Linked DNA regions of Homo sapiens: region 2 is linked to region 1. Evidence: fine-mapped expression QTL. A gene starts in region 1. The other region holds a variant in brackets. All regions are shown on one strand. Distances are from middle to middle.

Region 1 (4,222 bases):
TGACAGGCCTATGGCTCACTGTCTTTGAGCCATCTGTCCTGGGGCTGATCTGTCCTGGGCTTGGAGGTGGGGCAGAGAACTAGAACCCTGCCTCTGCCTGAGGGAAGTGGTAAGGAATGGGGCCGATCAGCAGAACAGGCAGCGAAGCCTGCTAGGAGCGCCTGTCTCCAGGCGTGGACACCAAGGGTGGTGGGCCCCTGCTTGTACTCACCTGCCCTGGGCTCACTCGTGTGTAGGTCACTCTTGGTGACACCTATACATGGGGAAAGAACAGAGCTTAGGGCAGTTGGGGGACTCCGTGTGTGTGTGGTGGGGAGGGGACGGCAGGCCCCAAGCGCCAGGCTGGGATGGAGAAGTTGGCTACTGAGGACTGAGGAACCGGCAGAGGTCCTCAGATGGTGACTGTGGAGGGTGCGGCGAGAACAGAGCGGGACTGGGCTAGCCTTTCACATCCCTCTCTCCCTGGGCCCTCCAGGGCTCCTACCTGCGGAGGCAGAGGCCACAGGCTCTCGGGACAATGGGCTCCCGCCTCCTCCGCCGGTCCAGCCATCACCTGTGGGTCCAAAGCGAAGAGTTGGGGCGCTGGACGCGGCGAGGCCCTGCCCTCTCTCTCCCCAGGCCCAGCCCGCCAGCGGAAGAACTCCGCGTCCCCCTCGGCGCGCCACTCCTTCCAGGACGAACTTTTGGCAAAGCGCTTTGAGCTCGCGGGCCGAGGCCTTCCCAGGAGCGGGTCACCTTACCTCGCTGGGACCCAGGAGCCTCGCGAGGGCTGCCAGGAGAAGCAGTTGGGGCGAAGGCGGAGGAGGCGCCATTCCAAGCGGCCCCGGGCCCGGCCCGCCGCCCAGCCGCTCCGCCAGCGAGGGAGCGCGCGCGCCCCGCCCCTCCAGCCCCAGCGCCCCCGCGCCGCCCGCGCCGCCCGCGCGTCCGTTGGCCCTGGGCTCGCGCGCGCCCCTCCCCAGACAGTGGGCCCCCGGTATCGCCCCGCCCCAATGCCCGCCCACAGCAGCGGAGTGTGCGCGCACGCGTCTTAAACCCGAAGCCGGAAAAGTTAAGTGTAGGAACCGGGTCAGCGCGCAAGGCTCAGTAGGGCAGGCGGGGGGCCCCTTTCCTCGTCCGGGGATTCGTCTCAGCAGGTCCCTGCAGTCTGTAGAGCAGCTGCACAGCTGCAGCGCCTGGATGAGATCGTGGAGCGGAGTGTAAGGCCGGAAATGGAATCCCTGTGGACCGGGTGGCCCAGGCTGGGGAGACGGGTACACTCCCCTGGCAAACCCGCTTCAGATTTGTCGGTGTGACCTGCAATGAGAAGAGGGGCAGAATCATGAAGTCAGGAAGAGCTGCTGAAGGGAGAGGGTCCCACCTCTGGAGCTTCGCCGTCGGCCCACCCCGCTCCCGCCCTCGCAAATAGGGTCCAACGCGGAGGAGCCTCGGGAGGTGTCTCCGCTCCCCAAACTCTCCAAACCCAGAAGCCCCGGGAGGCCGGAGCTAGCCGAGAGGCTGCTGTCTTCCCCACCTCCGCCGTCGCCCAGCGGTGGCAGGCGCGCGTCTAGAAAGAGATTGGTCGCCGCGAGATGGGGACGCCACAGGCCTCACCCCCAGGAGGTGCGCTGGCCGGCCCGCCCCGCAGCGGGGCGCTGGTTCTGGTTCCCTCTCCAGGATTTGGGGGGGAAACGTGGGTAGAGAGCGAGGGTCGAGATGCCTATCCCAAAGCTTGGAAACAGCGAGAACGTGTTATTTCCGTGGTCTCCCATGCACCCCGGTTTACGAGGCGTTCCTTGTAGGTCGGACGGGCATCCCTGTCGCAGGGCGCCTGAGTGTGTCCTTTTCTCCGACTGACTCTCGGAGGCTTGGGGCTGCTGTTTCTGGGGAAGCCACTCCCGGGCTGAGGATTTCCTTGATGTGGAGCCCCGAGCTCGCGGGGACGGGGGCGAGGAGTCCACGGGACCCGCACTGATGCAGGCGGGGAAGCAGCAGCCTCCCGCCAGCGGCTCAAGACGCCGCGCTCGACCTCTCTAGCCCAGTGCCGGACCCCGCCCAGCCAAGTTATTGCGGGGTTGCGGGGCCGGGCGGGGGAGAGCAGGGCCGCCCGAGGGCAGAGCGCGCGCGCGGCCGCCGCCCCACGGGGTCCCGGGAGCCGGCGCCCGGAGCTGCGACTTACTCACCTCTCCCTTCTGCTTCTTTTCATCGGCCTCTGAGGGCGCAGCGCCCAGGGTCTGGCGGAAGACCCTGATGACAGTCGGGTCCCCAAGCCTCGGCCTCCAGTCTCCCCACGTCTCCATGGCCAACACCGCTCTCCCCGGCTCGTGCCCTCCCCACTCCCTTCCGGCTGCCGGCGCGCCCTCCCTCCCTGGTGGCCCCGGCTCCTCTCACCCTCTGCTCCCACTTGTTGCAATTGCTGTACAAAGGGCCGGGGCGGGGGTGGGGGGCGGGCGAGGGCAGCCGGGCCCGAACTGGCTGCCTCTGCCCGGCCACGGCCAATCCAGAGCGCGCCCGCGCGGGAGGGCCCTGGGCAGCCGCCGCCGGCGGGCGGAGCCGCGGGCAAAGCGCGGAGCTCGCCGAGTAGACGGCCCCGCCGCCCGCTGCCCGCCGGGGCTCTCCAGCTTCGCCATGCCGCCGTGGGGCGCCGCCCTCGCGCTCATCTTGGCCGTGCTCGCCCTTCTCGGCCTGCTCGGCCCGCGGCTCCGGGGACCCTGGGGGCGCGCCGTCGGAGAGAGGACCCTGCCGGGGGCCCAAGACCGAGACGACGGGGAGGAGGCGGACGGCGGAGGCCCGGCGGACCAGTTCAGCGACGGGCGCGAGCCACTGCCGGGAGGGTGCAGCCTTGTTTGCAAGCCGTCGGCCCTGGCCCAGTGCCTGCTGCGCGCCCTGCGGCGCTCAGAGGCGCTGGAGGCCGGCCCGCGCTCCTGGTTCTCCGGGCCCCACCTGCAGACCCTCTGCCACTTCGTCCTGCCCGTAGCGCCTGGGCCTGAGCTGGCCCGGGAGTACCTGCAGTTGGCGGACGATGGGCTAGTGGCCCTGGACTGGGTGGTAGGACCTTGTGTTCGGGGCCGCCGGATCACCAGCGCCGGGGGCCTTCCTGCGGTGCTTCTGGTGATCCCCAATGCGTGGGGTCGCCTCACCCGCAACGTGCTCGGCCTTTGCTTGCTCGCCCTGGAGCGCGGCTACTACCCGGTCATCTTCCATCGCCGCGGCCACCACGGTTGCCCACTGGTCAGCCCCCGGCTGCAGCCTTTCGGGGACCCGTCCGACCTCAAGGAGGCGGTCACATACATCCGCTTCCGACACCCGGCGGCGCCGCTGTTCGCGGTGAGCGAAGGCTCGGGCTCGGCGCTGCTCCTGTCCTACCTGGGCGAGTGCGGCTCCTCCAGCTACGTGACAGGCGCCGCCTGCATCTCGCCCGTGCTGCGCTGCCGAGAGTGGTTCGAGGCCGGCCTGCCCTGGCCCTACGAGCGGGGCTTTCTGCTCCACCAGAAGATCGCCCTCAGCAGGTGGGTAACGGAGGCCGCAGACCAGCATGGAAAGAATAGAGGGCCTGAGCTGGCTAAGAATCAGAAACAGCTATGCATAGCATTGGAACAGGCGTGGGCCAGTTTGGGCAAAGTTCTCTGAACACATCTTCCAAAGCCTTCCAAACCCTGTAATCTAGACAGAACCGGGGAAGCGGGTTTAAAGGTCATCGATGGACTCAGCTAGTATCGCTGTGCTAGAGCAGGGACTCCTAACCCGGCCCCTTGCCTCATCTCGGCACCCCCTGCTGTATCCTAGCAATCTGAGCACCTGGCCCACGACAGCAGAGATACCTGACATTTACCACTTAGCCCACAGCTTAACAGCTCAGCAAAGAGCACTCTGGAAGCAATTGCAAACGATTATCTGCCCAGAATGTTTACTCACAGTCTCTGAGCCTGGAGGTGACAGGAATCAGAAATATGGTGGCATTTGAGGCCAGGTGCAGTGGCTCCCGCCTGTAATCCCAGCACTTTGGGAGGCCAAGGCAGGAGGATCACTTGAGCCCAAGAGTTTGAGACTAACTTGGGCAACATAGGAAAACCTGTCTCTACAAAAATTTCTTTTTTTAATTAGCCGGGTGTGGTGGCATGCATCTGTGGTCCCAGCTACTCAGGAGGTTGAGATGGGAGGATCACCGAAGCCCAGAAGTTCGAGGCTGCAGAGAGCCCTGGTCAGGCCACTGCACTCTAGCCTGGGTGACAGAGCAACACCCTGT
Region 2 (4,498 bases), 660 kb before region 1:
TCACCACGGGATGTGTGGCAGCACCAGCCTCTCCAGAAGCATCGTGTTTTTCCTAGCAGTTGGTTTTCTTTTTCAGATTTTAGGCTTGGCCTGTGGACTCCATGCAGGCAGGACTGTGCCTGCCTTGTTTCTTTTTTCTTTCTTTTTCTTTTTTTTTTGAGACAGAGTCTCACTCTATCGCCCAGGCTGGAGCGCAGTTTGGCTGACTGTAACCTCTGCCTCCCAGGTTCAGGCGATTCTCATGCATCAGTCTTCTGAGTAGCTGGGATTACAGACATGCACCACCACGCCCGGCTCATTTTTTGTATTTTTATTTTTATTTATTTATTTGAGACAGAGTTTCACTCTTGTCACTCAGGCTGAAGTGTAGTGGCTCAATCTCAGCTCACTGCAACCTCCGCTTCCTGGGTTCAGGCAATTCTCCTGCCTCAGCCTCACAAGTAGCTGAGATTACAGGCACCCGCCACCACACCCAGCTACTTTTTGTATTTTTAGTAGAGACAGGATTTCACCATGCTGGCCACGCTGGTCTCAAACTCCTGACCTCAGGTGATCCGCCCGCCTTGGCTTCCCAAAGTGCTGGGATTACAGGCGTGAGCCAGCTGGCCCGGCTTGCCTGCCTTGTTTCTGAGGAGCCGAGCACATGTGGGCCTACGCACATCTTTGCTGAGGGAGTGCTTCTCCATGAAGAAGGCCAGATTCCATGTTTACTGCTTCGGGCGGCACCAGCGTTCCATAATTCCCATCACTCTTGGGAGATGCCCTGGGAACTTCAGCCTCCCTCTGAATAGAGGATACGAACTGCCAGTTGGCTCTATGACCTGTAACTAATCCTATCTCAACGTTAAACCCACAGTTCATTTGTTTTTGTTTGTTTTGAGAAAGAAAGTTGAGTTTCCTGAGAAATGAACTCACTTTGATCTTGACACATGAAGTCAAAGTTCAACATTTCTGTAGTGTCTTTCTGCTTAGAAGGCACTGATAGGCATCAAGTAGATGGAGCGTCACAGGCATTTCCAAAGGGCTGGGTGTTTATGACCAATCGGGATAATTACATGCTTGTTCAGGTACGGGTTGCTCCTGGCTATAGAGACAAAGTGTGTGGAAAGAGGAATGGAGATTCGATCAGAAGTTTAAATAGAAACAGTCCTTTTTTACTTGGAGTCAGGGATTGGGGGAATGGAGTGCATTAGCTTCAGGAGAGTTAAGAGAAAGTCAACCACTCCCATTGGCTGGTCAACTGCACCCCTCATGTGCAGAGACCTAGGGGGACGAAGCTTCTGTCTGCCAGCTGTCATTCCACAGCAGAGGTGGGGTCCACGGCACCACCCTCAGCCTGTCACCAGCTCAGCCTGGAACAACAGCACACATCCAAGATGCAAAGGAAGGCTTCCTTCTGGGGCTTTTTCTGGACATGGAGAAACTCAAAGACTGCCTGGAGAAGGTCACAGCTGTAATATTGACCTCGTTTGCAATCTTTCCACCCAGCAGGATAAAAATACCTTTTAAAAAAAGAAAGCTTAGAAGAGGGCATTCTCAGAAACCAACCTTCTTAACAACTCACACTTCTCTATTCCTGGGCCAGCTTGTTTTCAGCCATTGTTATGTGCAAGTCTTGATAGAAAAAGCCAGCCAGGGCTCTGCAGAATCAGAAAAAATAGGAAGAGAGTCTGGGGCTCCACAGGCAGGAGCTTGCAGGCAGAAAGGGCCCCGGGCACATGGCATCTTCTCCTGGCAGACCCGATTAGTCACCGAGAGGAGTTTTCCTCTACCTGGCAGAGGCAGAGGAGTAAGTTAAGAAAAGGAGATGTGTGTCTCCTCTGAGTGGCTGTAACTTTGTGTTTGCACCCCAGATTCTATGATGAGGGTGGGGGTTCAGTAGGAGAACCCCAGAAAGCACAGCTGGATAGAGAGAGACAGCCTGTGGGGAGAGGCTGCCCGGTCATGAGTTGTCTGAGGGATGCTCTGGGTTTTCTTGCACTGGGGCCATTTCAGCCTGTTGATGTAAAATTTTTTAATTAAAAAATTAAGAAGAACTAGGGGATATTTCAGGAAACAAGACCTCTGTAATGGCTCAGAACACAAATAGAAACAGCGTATTACTCTTCCAGGAGCTGCTTACCATAGTTGCCAGGAATTCAGGACTGGATGCCTTCGGGGCTGAACCCCTGAGGACTCCTGAGAACACAC[G/A]TTGCCCTCAAAAATCTACCTACCTGCACACATTTTCTACCCTCTCTGCAGGACGCCTCAAGGAAGAAAGTAAACAAAATCCAGAACAAATCATTTGGCCCCTGAGGCAGGAGGGTAACTGCTCACTGCTGCTGCTAAATGTCTATTTCCTCTCCCCAAAGTATTGCTTCTGAGATGGACCGCATTTCCCTTCCGTAGACCCTCTGGGCCTGGGTAGAGAGGCCAGGGAACGCTTGGGTGATGCAATTGGAGCTTCTATTTAAGTGAGAGGAAAGTGGCAGTACAGAAAATAGAAGAGGTTCTTGCAGAAAATTGTGGGGCCAGGCCAGGCATGGTGTCTCACACCTGTGATCTCAGCTCTTTGGGAGGCCAAGGCGGGTGGATCATGTGAGGTCAGGAGTTCAAGACCATCCTGGCCAACATAGTGAAACCCCATCTCTACTAAAAATATAAAAATTAGCCGGGCATGGTGGAGCACGCCTGTAGTCCCAGCTACTCGGAGGCTGAGGCACAAGAATCGCTTGAACCCGGGAGGCAGAGGTTGCAGTGAGCCAAAATTGTGCCACTGCACACCAGCCTGGGCAACAGAGCAAGACTGTTTCAAAAAAAAAAAAACAAAACTGTGGGGCCAGTGGGAGGAAGAGCAAGGGAAGGAGCAGCTCTGTCAACTCGGTGCCCTCCAGCCGCACAGGGAAAAGCTCTTCCTCCCTGCCATTTGGCCTTCAAGTTCGTCAGTTGTTTAACGTACAAAACATGTCATTGATATAGGCCGGAGGGAAGTACAGAGGCCTTTTTAAACAACACAACCACTGACTACCAAGTTCAGGTTTAATTTAGCTGAATATTTAAATATGTTGACATCTCATCATGTAATAAAATAATAATATCCCTTGGCCTGGTAAATGGTTACCTATGGTGGGTGAGAGGATGTGTGGTTATTTTAAAAGCCTATCAAGCCTAGTTGAGGGCCGAAGGAAGGGGGAAGTGGGGGGAGGCCAAGGCCAGGCAGTAGCATAAATGGTGAGCAGGGTGAGGTTATGGAGACCGCTCTTGTCAGAATTCATATCCTTCTGAGTGGTGTTTGCATTCTTGAGCCTGGGGTGGGTGGCGGAGGGCCCAACAAGTGCGGTACAGCCCAAGACGTCTACCTCCCCTTACACACACACAGCCCCTAGCTACATGAAGCTGATTTATCTCTTGTTGCTGTAGATATTTTTGGCAACAATCGATCCCTTTAAAATTTTTATTTTCCACTTTACAGAAAAAATGCAGCAAACGCCAAACCCTAGTGACTGACATTGCCTGGTGTTCATGTCTAATCCTTGCTCATGTTTATAGCCATAGTCATTCTTGTGAAGCTACTATTTTGTGTCCTGATTTTTCACTTACTATGTTTTTGTCTTCACATGTGTAGGTAGCTAAGTTGCAGTCACCAAAAACCCCAAATAGGTAGGAGACATCCATGCGCCATTTCTATTAGCCAGTTCCTAGCCATCCTCCTAACTGTTGGATCTGGAGGGTTAGCCTCAGATCATTGCAGTTATAAACAGTCCATCCCTGGCTATCTTTTCTAGAAGGGTCCAGTGTCATCTCAGCTAGGCAGAAACGTATTTCAACTCCCAAACTGTTTCAAGAGTTTGAAAAGCTCAGGCCCAGAAGAAACAGAGTGAGCAGTTGAACAGTCTTACAACTGCTGCTTACAACTTTATAACAGGCCATAGGTTTAAAGTCCAAAAGGGCTCAAATTTCTACCCCACGTTTGACGACTCAGACCTCAAGCCAGAGCTGAGCTGACTTCCCTGCGCCCAGGCCACGGCGGTGAAATGAAGGCACAGCAGCCCCGGCCAGGCCCTCCCAGTGGAGGCACAGGGGGACGGCGACACCAACCACCCCAGCATCAGTAACCTGCACACTCTTCTCCCTAGGTCTCCTGGAGGCAAGGCGACCTTGCTTGCCCTCTCTTGCAGAATAACAAGGGGCTTAGCCACAGGAGTTGCTGGCAAGTGGAAAGAAGAACAAATGGTGAGCAGCAGTGCCGTTTAAGGACCAGTCGGGCTTGCAAATGCATAATGGGAACGCAGAAAGGCCATGTGCAGATAGACTGGACACAGCCGGAGGCAGCTCAAATCTGCCCCAACCTTCCTAGGGGCTAAAAGACGAGTGACAGAATCTGTAGCTGATGAGCTGGGGTGCCTCACGAAGGGTGGCCTTTTTACCTCTGTCCTTTGCTTTTTTCCTTTTAAAATCATAGCTGTAGTTGATATAAAATATAACTTTGGGTGTGCAGCTTAAATGATGGTGAGGACTG

What was found. PIP is the estimated chance that this variant, and not a neighbour inherited with it, causes the effect.
Region 2: its variant is the best candidate, but not a certain one, in a credible set for the expression of ABHD15 in whole blood (INTERVAL, PIP 0.51).

The regions. Positions count from the first base shown.
Region 1 is chr17:29,565,349-29,569,570 of GRCh38, reverse strand. It overlaps ABHD15 (abhydrolase domain containing 15), which reads left to right and starts at 2,534. Exons shown (of 2, transcript NM_198147.3): 1 at 2,534-3,485. The coding sequence starts at 2,605. It overlaps TP53I13 (tumor protein p53 inducible protein 13), which reads right to left and starts at 870. Exons shown (of 7, transcript NM_138349.4): 1 at 741-870; 2 at 485-553; 3 at 212-253. The coding sequence starts at 812. RefSeq lists enhancers at 1-330, 1,414-1,463, 3,484-3,593 and silencers at 634-993, 1,994-2,253, 2,344-2,963.
Region 2 is chr17:30,222,533-30,227,030 of GRCh38, reverse strand. It overlaps SLC6A4 (solute carrier family 6 member 4), which reads left to right. Exons shown (of 15, transcript NM_001045.6): 2 at 4,116-4,212. Among named protein-coding and RNA genes, the nearest start is that of SLC6A4, 11 kb to the left of the region's middle. RefSeq lists a silencer at 934-1,134 and an enhancer at 4,073-4,498. The variant G/A (reference allele first, on the strand shown) is at 2,191.